Linked DNA regions of Homo sapiens: region 2 is linked to region 1. The links come from fine-mapping of genetic effects on gene expression. A gene starts in region 1. The other region holds a variant in brackets. All regions are shown on one strand. Distances are from middle to middle.

Region 1 (5,357 bases):
CAGGGCACCAGCCTCCAGTGCTGCTTCTGCAATCCCATGGCCCCGACCCAGGCCCCAACCCAGGCCCTGGTAAGACGGTGACCCAGGGAATCTGGAGCTCCCTGGCCCACTGCGGCAGCCGTGCCACAGGTGACATCGTGAGCCCCGCCCCCCCGCCCCCCGCCCTGAGTCCAACCCCAGCCCTGGTTCCTTCTCCCTGAACTTCCCACCTGGGGACAGAATGCGGGCCTAGGGCTTTCCCTGGGGGTGACCTGAGAACAGCTAGTCCAGCACCTCACCTCACTGCACGCTGTAGGCCCAGCCTCCCTGGGTTCCCGCCCCCTTATCTCACAGGAAGAGCTGGGCCTGGAGAGGGGCAGATGGCTGCACAGCCTCACGAGGGGCCGGGGAGCCGCACCTCTTCCTGCCAATCAGCCCAGCAACCGGCGACCCCAAGCGCGGCGACCGCAAAGGGAGTGCTTGCCCATCCGCGTTTGAAAGCAGACTTTTTCTCGGCAGGAACACAGGACTCACCTGCCAGTGGCTACCCAGGCAGGGGCTTCCCTGTTCCTCAAGGGGCCGGAGTCCCTCCGTTCTTTGGGGGACCATCTGAGGGAGCACGGGAAGGAGCCATGGATGTGGAGGGCGGCAGAGCCAGGACGTGAGACACGACAGCAGAAAACACTTGGGCACACAAATGCCACACCCCCACACGCACATACGTGCACACATACATGTGCCAGGCACGCACCCCAGCCAGGTGGAGGAGGGTGGGGGTCAAACCAGGCTGCACCGAGCACAGGTGGTGGCTGAGTTCCGGTTGGCCCAGCTCCAGGCTGTGGGGAGAAGAGAGATGGCGGCATTCTTTCGGACGCTTTTATCCACTATGGGAGCAGGAAGACAGCCAGGGTTATCACAGCACAATTTGAAAAACATACAAATAATTCATGTCAGCATAACGTCATGGTGTTGTCAATAATGAATCCACACTTAAAACCCAGATTGATAGCTTCAAAGGGCAGCCCCCACCCCTGGACAGGTAGGCAGGGCGCAGAGCCAGCCCCTCTTGGTTCTGAGAAGCAAACTCGGAAGCAGTTCAGGTCAGAGGAGTCCAGGGACCGCCCTTGCTGGGAGGAAATGGGTGCAGTGCGGCCCAGCGCAGTGAGCGGGGCCAAGGGTCTAGCAGCACTCGAGTTCTGCCCAAAGACGAGAGAGAGGGTGCCGGCCTACGTGCGCCCGCTGGGAAGAACTGGAAATCCATGTGCTCCCGTTCTGCGAATCCCTTCACCAGGGCGTCGGCCACCGGAGTGGGAAAAAACCTCTCCCGGCGTGAGAGCTGGGGGCAGGCCCAAGGTGCTAGGGGCTCCCGGGAGGACTGGCCATGGCCACCCAGCATCCCTGTGCCTGGCCTGGGCCTCGGTGGCCAGTCCTCCTCGGCTGCAGACCCCAGTGAGGACAGGGACCTCACCACCCACTGCCTGGCTTCTGAGGCAGCAGTGCCCCCATTAAACCTGAGATGAACTTCTCTGGGTCTTTCAGGAAGGAGCCCCGCCCCAGCATCTGGGCTCCCAGGACGAGGGCAGTCACTAAGTGGTGATGTCATGTCACTCATCGGCCTCTTCTGCCTGTGGCCATACAACAGGCCCAGGCCTGTCCCATCCCGAGGGAGGCAGATCCTGGCTGGAGCTGGCGGAGACTTACGGCCACACCCTGCCAAGGTGTGCCCACTGGGACCCGGGCCCAGCCTGTCACGGCGCCTCTCCCTGTGCCATCCGCCAGCCCAGGCTTGATTGAGCTCCATATGAATATTCATACAGCATTCTGCTGGGACCGTCGTTAATATTCTGAGGAAGCGGCAAGAATGCCCGTCCCCATGTCGTGAGCCATGGTCAACGTGCTGCTGACACGATGGTGGCTGTGGATTTTTCGGATGCAATTGTCAGGCCTCCAGGCTCAGGAGGGTGGAGGCAGCACCGCCATCTCCAGGCCCCACCAGCACCCATCCTCTGACCACGGACCTCCCAGGCACCCCACCTGCCCCCTGGCCTTTGCCTACCACCGTGTCCTTACCTGACCCAACCTCGACCAAATGCCCCTCTTCCTCACCGCTCCTGCCCCTGCTTCTCCTCCTCAGCCCTGACCCCTCTGCCCTCCCCGCCCTGCCTCCTGCCCCTGCTTCTCCTCCTCAGCCCTGACCCCTCTCCCCTCCCCGCCCTGCATTTACCCCACGCCCACAGCCCTCACAGGGCGGGGACACCGAGGTTCTCCCATAAATTAACCAAGCCCCTTTACGAAGCCCCTTCCCAAATAGAGCCGGCGCCCTCCTCCCCTGGGCCCGGGTCACCGCTGGGTCAGCGCCTACCGGCTCCCCAGGCCTGCCCCATGCCCTCAGCTAGAGGCAAACCCAAGCTCATGGGCGCAGCGAAGCTGGCAGGAGGGGCCCTGGGGGCTGTGGCTCACCCCTGCATGGCCCTCCTGCTGCCCTGAGAGCCCCTTGGCTCCGGCTGTCCCCATTAGTCGGGTAGGACTCTTGGGCCCCGCCCCACCTGCCCCTTCCAGTCTCCGCCCAGGTCAGGACGGCAGGTGGCCCCAGCAGGGCTGGCCTGAGATGGAGGAACGCGGCCCCGACCCGGGCTATGGGGAGACTCTGGATGTGGCGGTGGATCCGCTGACGGGGCTTTGGGATGTGATTATTTCCTGGGGGCTGACGGTAGCCCAGGAGCACCAAGACCCAGCTCTGCCTTCCGCCTCCCACGGGGCCTCTCCTCTGCAGGAGGCCATACAAGGACTGCACGGAAGGGGAGCGGCCCCGCAGGGAGGGGGCGCCTGGCAGCCCGCCCGCCGCAGCAGCCTGCAACCCCGCCCCCAGGCGCAGTGCGCGCCACAGCAGCCCTGCCAGAGCCCGTGTGACACAGCTGCCGGCATGCCCGGGCACGCTGCCCAGCTGGGCTGGGGGAGGGGCGCCGGGCCAGGAGCCGCTGAATCAGCTGCACCCGGACGGCCCCGCCTGGGCAAGGATGCTGGTGCGGCGGGGCGCTCTCTCTTTTGGGAACCGTCAGGAGGCGCGCCAGGCGGTGGGGTGGGGGGTGTTTCTGGACTGCGGCCTCTGCAGCCTGCTGCATGGGAAGTGCGGCTCACCGGGGCTGGGTGCAGGGCAGCCCCCGCCTCCGAGGGCATGAGCGGAGGCCTGCAGGGAGGGCCTGGGCAGAGAGGGGCCCTTTCCAAAGGAGACCCATAAGGAAGAAGAGAAACGCACTGGCCTCTGCAGATCGAAGCACGTTTGTCTCCCCCAGAAAACGCTGAATCAGCACTCACAGCACTGCCAGGGCCCGCGCCCTCCTCCGATCGCACGCTGGAGGGGACAGGCCCTTCCAAGATCACGGAGCATCAATATCACCATCGACGCAGCGGCACCGGGGGAGTCATGCTCTGGTCTGGAGTGGGGGCCGCGCCTGGCCCTGCCGTCCTTCCTGCTGGGGGCTGTGTTTGGAGCCGGGCACCTTCCCCCTCAGCCCCTGCTGTCCTGTCCTGCCCCCTGCGGAGGGGCGGGAGGTGGAGGACATTCCTGTGTGTGTGCGTTTGGGGTGGTTTTGCCTGTGGAGGCTGCACATGGGGGCTCTGACGGGGCAGCCTTCCGAGGCCACCCTGTGCTGGGGATGGGACAGCACGTGGCCCATCTTGACCGAGCATCTTAGATCTTGAAATCCCCAGCACCACCCCCTTCCAGCCACTGCCTGCCCTCTGCTGGCTCCTCAGCTTGGATTCCACTTTTCAGCAACAGAGACCCCCGGTCTGGTGCCCAAGCTGGTGTCCCCGTGTGGTGGACGACGGGGAAAGGGGGGCTCTGGGAGCCACTCGGCACAATCCCCCTGGGCCAGGCACAGACTGAAAATCAGACCCCACTAAGTCAACAGCCCCGGGCTGGCTTTGGTGGCTTCCTCCACACCCCGCGCCCGGCTGTGACTTCCTGACTCAGCACTCTGTTCAGCCTGAGATGGAGCCGCTCCCCACCTCCAGGCCTCCCTCCCACCCGTCTCCACCCAGGGGCCGCCCTCCCCAGAGCCCCTCTGATTCCTCCCTCCCCGGCCCGCCCAGCTCCCCCTCAGCTTCGCGCCTGCCTTGGGCTGGACACCTTCTCTGTGGTCCAGGCTCAGGGATTGGTCCAGGGCCGCCCACCCTCCCCCATCCCCCAGGCCGAACACTGACCTCTGGTGCCAGGCTCCTCACTGCCAAACCCATGACTCCCAAACCCACTGCTGTCACTGGGGGCCTCTCATCCAGCCAGCGCCGGGCAGCTCTGATTCCAGAACCTTCCCGGCACGTTCCTGACCTCCAGGCCAGTCTGCAGCTACCTCCACTTCCCACCGTCCCCAGGAGCAGCCAGCGGCCCTCCCTGCCCACACCTGTCCTTCCCAGCTCACTCAGGTCCGGCCGCCACCCTGAGTCCCCGGGGCCACTTCCCTCCTTCGCAGGCAACCGAGGCCACTTGCAGTGGGAGGGGAACCGCTGTATGGACCAGCCGCCTCGTAAGGATGGATCCTGTCTCCTAACCGGCTCCCAACTCCCTCCGAAGCGGCTGCGCGCTGCCTGAGATCTCTGCAGGAAGCCGCAGCGGCCACATGCTTAGGTTCTGTCTCAACACCTTCCCAGTCCTCGACTCCTCACCACTGCTGGAAGCTTCTGGAAGCCTCCAGGCCTGCAGGTCACTCCTGTGTTTTCAGACATGTGGAGCCCACCACCAGCAAATCAGGCTGTTCTAAATGTGACGTGTCCGTGGAAAGCGCTGGTCCCCCAGCAGTGGTCCTGGCACGTCTCCCCACCCAGCAGAAACACAGCTGCTGCTGGGAGGGCCCAGGAGGCCCAAGACAGACAGCCCCAGACATACAGCACCATCGGCGGTCCCTGGAGATCCCTCTCTGGGTGGCACCCTTACCAGTCACTGCAGCATGGTCTGGTCTGGGTGTCTGTCACTGTGGACAAAGGGCCTGGGGACAACCTCCAAGTAGCTCCGGCCTTCCTTGGAGCCGTGGCCCTTGCACAGCTCAGCCGGTCATCTGGGACCTCAAGGGGAGAACAACTTTGAAAACAGAACCTGTCAAACAGGGGAAACGCCTGGTTAATACAGCCCGAGGATGGCAGGTCTGCTGGGGAGCGGTCGTAAGCAGCTCCACCGCCCCTCAGATCCCCCACAGGGCTCTTCAGCCCCCCCCAGAGGAGCCGGGTTAGCGGGGCTCCCGCAAGGAACACACTGTGGCCATGGGGAAGCTCCTTGGCTCTTGGAGCCTGTGACATGCCTCTGCCCGGGGAATGGCCTGAGCCTAGGAGGTCGAGGCTGCAGTGAGCCGTGATCGTGGCCACTGCAGCTTTGGCAACAGAGC
Region 2 (5,357 bases), 34 kb after region 1:
GGGTCTCACTGTGTTGCCCAGGCTAGTCTCAAACTCCTGGGCTCAAGCGATCCTCTGGCCTCGGCCTCCCAAAGCGTTGGCATTACAGGCATGAGCCACTGCACCCAGCCAAATGTTCGAACAGATATCTGGGAACCCAGCAGCCAAGTCAAGTTGACACATGAAATTAACCATCACTCCATCCTCACGATTCTGAACCGCACGCCTCAGTGGCATTAAGTGCATTCACGTTGCTGTGCAAACAACATCTTCCTCCATCGACACAGCTTTCCCTCTTTCCAAACTGAAGCTCTGTTCCCACCCCCTCCCCCCGCCCCTGGCGTACACGCCTCTGCTGTCTGTCTCCAGGGCCTCTCGGAGGAGGAATCAGGCAGGCCTTGCCTTTTCATGGCTGGCTGCTTTCCCTGAGCACAACATCCTCCAGGCACGTCCCCATCGTAGCTCGTGCCAGAATTTCCTGGGGTTTCTTTCTGAAGTGAAGAAAATGTTCCAAAATTGACTGTGTTGATAGTTGCACACATCCGTGAGTATACAGAAAGCCATTGAATCATACGCTCTAACTGGATAAATTGGATGCGATGTGAGTTCTATCTCAATAAAGCTATTATTTAAAATATAGAGGTCAGCTGGGTGCAGTGGCTCACACCTGTAATCCCAGCACTTTGGGAGGCCGAGGTGGGCTGATCACCTGAGGTCAGGAGTTTGAGACCAGTCTAGCCAACATGGCGAAACCCTGTCTTTACTAAAAATACAAAAACTAACTGGGCGTGTTGGTGCATGCTTGTAGTCCCAGCTACTCGGGAGGCTGAGGCAGGAGAATTGATTGAACCTGGGTGGCGGAGGTTGCAGTGAGCCGAGATTGCGCACTCTAGCCTGGGCAACAGAGGGGGACTCCGTCTCAAAAAGCAATAAAAATGAATAAAAATTCAAAATAAATAAATAAAATATAGAGGCTAAGTGCAGGCCGCCTGCCCCGTCATTCCCTATCTTGTGAGGGGCTGAGCGCTAGAGACCAGAAGCTGTGGATTTTCCAGCCAGGCCCTATTGGCTGAGGCACACGTGTGGCTCCCCCAAGACAAGAAGCTTCTGGAAACTCATGGCGCCCAGCACCGAGCCAGCGAGCCAGCTTCCTTCCCTGCTAAGCCCATCCCACCCCGGCAGAGCTCCCTTGTCTCTGCCCACCCCAACCCGGAGGCTGCTCACCCTCAGCTCCTGCCCAGCTCTGGCCTCCTGGCAGCATAGCGAGCTTTCTAGAGCATTCTGGAGCTTTCCAAGGCAGCAACTGCAGTCCCAGCCATTCTCCAAAGCTTAATTCTGCTCTCACCTAGTCCCAGCTGTGACCAGTGCCCGCCTCAAGAAGCCTACAGCCCAGGGCCCGCCCTCCCTGCAGACCGGACAGCAACGCCACCTCTGGGAGACTCGTGGGGACGGGGCCCAGGGCAGGCTCACAGTGGGAGGCTGGCAGCACCTACCCGGGGCAGGGCCTCCTCCTGCCACTACCACGTCAGGCATCACTGAGAAGGAGGCAAGGCCTAGAGCAGTCGGCACCCTCTGCAGAGCTGGCACATCCAGGGAGCTTAGGGTCCCTGCATGCTTCTGGGGTTCAAAGGGCAGAGGGTGTGAGGGGCAGCAGGGAGGCTTGAGACCCTCTGGACTTCGAGATCACCATTTCTGCCCCAAAGCCGATGCCTCCACCAGCACTGGCCCCTGCAGTCCTCGCAGCTCCCCTCGAGCTCAGGAGAAGCCCGCAGGACCCCACTCTCCCTCCCAGGGCTCCCTCTCCACCTCCTGGGGCTCCCTCCCTCCCCAACCTCCCCACACTCCCCAGGCTCCCACACTTGCCAGGCCCTTCCCCCAGCCTAACCCTGGCTCACCATTTACTCAGCCTATTTAGCATCGTAATGCAGACTGGTTGTGCTGGGTCCTACAGGTATTGATTTTGCTCTATTTTACTGGTTTTAACTTAATGACTAGAAACCCCAAACAAATAAAATTTCCTTTAAAAACTCAGAGAGATCAATGCTCATGGGCCAGAATCCCTATTCTACGAGCCGAAGGGACAGTCCCCTGGGTTCTCCGCATCATCGCTCATGGCCAGAGGCTCCCCGGGGGCTCGGGAAGGATCCCTGGGTGGGGGTGGGGGCAAGCATACCCCACCTGCTCAGGGCGGCCGCGTCCCTCCTAAAGCGAGACCCCCACCCTCTGGCTGGTGAGGCTGTTTAAAAGCCTGTCTCCAGGTTGTAAAACTGGAAAAATTTAAAACTTATGATTCATCTGTTTCCATGTGTCCCAGGCGGCCTCTGAGGTTGGCCGGGCTCTGAGGCAAGGAGGGGTCCCGACCCTGGGCATGGATGCAGATGTGGAGGACCTCTCGGAGCACGCAGGTGCTGAGGCCCCCAGCCCAAGCCGCCAGGACGGTCCCCATTCCTGGCTGGTGGGCTGGGCCACAGGTCAGTCCGTGCCCCATGGCCTGGGGGACACTCCTCCCGTGCCCTCCTGCGGGCTGCCCAGG[G/A]CGGCTGCCTTTGCGATCCCCAAGGTCTCCCAGAGGTCCTGGGGTGGCAGGGGCCCCAGTTTATCCAGTGGAAGGGGAAACTGAGGCAAGGTCCTGGACAGGGAGTCCTGGCTCTGCCTCTTCCCGTGAGACCTGGAACAAGTCTCCCGCCCTCCTAGGGTTCCAGGCTTGTGGTTGTGAAACCAGGGGGCGCTCAAGGGACACTCAAGGCTCTCAGTTCTCCCCATCCAAGTCCTCCAAGTCAACAGGACCCCCAGGAGTGGGGGAGAGGAGGAGCAGAGCTGGCCGGGGGCCGGGGTGGGGAGTGGAGGCCTCGCCCTCCCTTGACCTCCCGGATCTGCCCCTGTGCTTCCGGGAGGGTGAGGAACCAGCAAGAACCCCCACCCCCTGCACCGAGGTCCCCAGGCCAGGCCTGCAGCCTCCCTGGAGGGAGCCCTTTATTGCCCCTCCCCAGAGGCCCAACCCAAGCTCCTCACCCTGATGGCATTCATCCAAGAAGCCAGGATGAGGGTTCCCATCCCCACTGCTCACACTTGGGAAGGTTTTAAAACCAGCTGGGACCAGTTACAGGGACAGCAGGACTTCTGTGCCCACTGGGGCCAGCCCAGCTACCTCCAGGGGGTCTGGGTTGACCTTGGCCTGGGAAGCCTGTGCATGCCGGGGAGGGGGCACTGGGCTTTTCGCCTGCTCCCTCAGCCCAGTCTCTGGATTGCACTGGCCCCCAGCAGCTGGAATCCCTGCTCCCCGGAGGCCCACCCATTTCTGCAGCCCAGCCCCCCACCTCACCCCTCTCCCTGCTAGCATTTAGGCAGCTCCAGGGACACCCTGGTCACCCCATCCTGACTTGGGCAGGATCATAGAGCATATGATTTAATCTTCTTGTGCCTCAGTTTCCCCCTAGGTGCACTGGGTCCATGCCTCTGGGCTGGCAGAATTTGACTGCTGGGACACTTAGGCCCCTGGAGGAGTCAGGAACAGCCCCCTGGCCGGCTCTGCAGTGCACACGTGGTCAGGCCCTGAGGTGGTATCTCCTGCAGGTCTGGAGAGAGGCTGGCAGGTGGGTGGAGAGGCTGTTGAGAAGGGCACTGCCAGGGTCCAGGGCAGAGTCTCCACGTCCTACCCACCCACATGGGCTCCCTGGCTGTGCGCTCTGCAGAGGGTGACACGTCCAAGGAATGGGGAACGCAAGACTTCCCTCTGCTGGGTCACGGCTCCATCTCCAAGTCTGGGCCAGCAGCCGGAGGGCTGGATGCTATTTGCAAATTAGTGTTTCACCATTAGACTTTCGGCTGTGGGAGGTGGTGACAAAGACCTTGGCCCCCCACACTTAGCTCTTGGGAACGGCTCTGCCTGGGTTCCCCCGAAGCACAAGCACATGTCACCCGCCACCCACTCCGGGCCCTGTGGGTCCAGCTCTGCAGCCCAGCCCACCACTTACAAACACAGTAGGTCAGGCAAGAGGCTTCTGCTCCCAGGTCTTGATTTTCTCATCCACACAACGGGCCTGAGCTCTACTGTGGAGGCCAGGACAATGGCAAGGACTGGAGGAGGTAAAATCCCGGGACCTCCAGTCCAGTGCCGCCCCACGTCCTGGGGATGCTGTGTGGATCGAGCATTACAAAAGCATTTTGTAAGAAGGTGTTTGGGGGACTCCAGCCCCACTGGACAGATGGGAATACTGAGGCCCCAGAAGGCACCTGTGGGAAAGATGCAGGCTCCAGTCCTGGTTGCGACACAGACGCGTGCCTCTCGGATCCTCTCTGCCCGCCATTTCCCCAGGGGTCAGCGTTCTCAGGAATGCTCAGGGCCTGGCGGCCCACCTGCTCAGAAGGCCCAGGCAGCTCTGCCAAGGCCAAGGGCAGCAGAGACCCTCCAGCAGGCCAATGTGCCCAAGAGTCCTCGTCCTCCAAAGCCCAGTAGCTTAAGCACGATTGAGGGATTCTGCAGCTGTGTTTCTGTAAGGAGGAAATCATTGACTCTGGTTGGGGGCAGGGCATTTGGGGGGCATACCTGGAAGGGGCACCATCACAGGAGCTGGGAGGCTGGCACCTGGACGGGTCCCATGGGACCCACTGAAGAGTGACCTACATGTGTGAGTGGCCCATGGCTGGGACTTGGAGAGGGGCAGGGAAAGCAGGGGTGCCGTTCCAGGCTCCCAGACAGCGTCTGCTCCGGGCAGAAATTGTTTATGCGTCACCCACCCAAGGCTCCCGGGGCTGGAGGGGCAAACCCACCCACTCCTCTCTCCCCTCCTCCCCTTCCTCGTCCTCCACGCAGTGGGGGCTGCCTGGCTTTGGGATCCTCTTCCATTTCCTCTCTGCAGACATCACTCCTGGACCCAGTCCCCAATCCCTGGAAGGTTCCGGAGCCTGAGATGCTCTCCCCCCAACTCAGCCCATAGGTGAGACCTTGGCCTCCCTCACCTGCTAGGAAGCCCCTTGCTCGGGCTGCCTGCCCTTGGGGCCTCCAGGCAGAGCTGGACTGAATCTACTTGAGGGAGTAGCACCATCCAGATGGGCCCCCAGTGGGCCGGGGAAGGGCAGGAGACCTGCACCTTGCCAGCTGCCCTGGCTTCCCGGCACCCTGGGGGCTGGTGGAGCCCTGTTATCACTATGTCGGGGAGCAGAGCCCTGGGGTCAGGATGTGGGTGGCAGGAGGGCTTGGGGAACTTGGCTGTGGACATCTGGCCACCTGATTTGGAGCTGGGCAGCACTGGGCAAGTTCTTCCCTACCCCTGGCCTCAGTGTTCTCAGCTGTAAAATGGAATAAGGACAGGTTGTGAGGCTTAAACAGTATAAAGTGAGGGAAAAGGCTTAGCTCATTCAGTCCTGAGAGTAGCCACCCC

What was found. PIP is the estimated chance that this variant, and not a neighbour inherited with it, causes the effect.
Region 2: its variant is the best candidate, but not a certain one, in a credible set for the expression of LINC02846 in whole blood (TOPMed, PIP 0.54).

Annotation. Positions count from the first base shown.
Region 1 is chr9:136,106,926-136,112,282 of GRCh38, forward strand. LINC02846 (long intergenic non-protein coding RNA 2846) reads right to left here and starts at 2,511. Exons shown (of 2, transcript NR_189286.1): 1 at 2,440-2,511; 2 at 924-1,894. RefSeq lists silencers at 198-297, 2,706-2,895 and enhancers at 1,161-1,773, 2,385-2,997, 2,626-2,675, 2,998-3,609, 3,186-3,295 and 2 more.
Region 2 is chr9:136,140,773-136,146,129 of GRCh38, forward strand. No RefSeq gene overlaps it. Among named protein-coding and RNA genes, the nearest start is that of TMEM250, 25 kb to the left of the region's middle. RefSeq lists a silencer at 4,433-4,745. The variant G/A (reference allele first, on the strand shown) is at 2,513.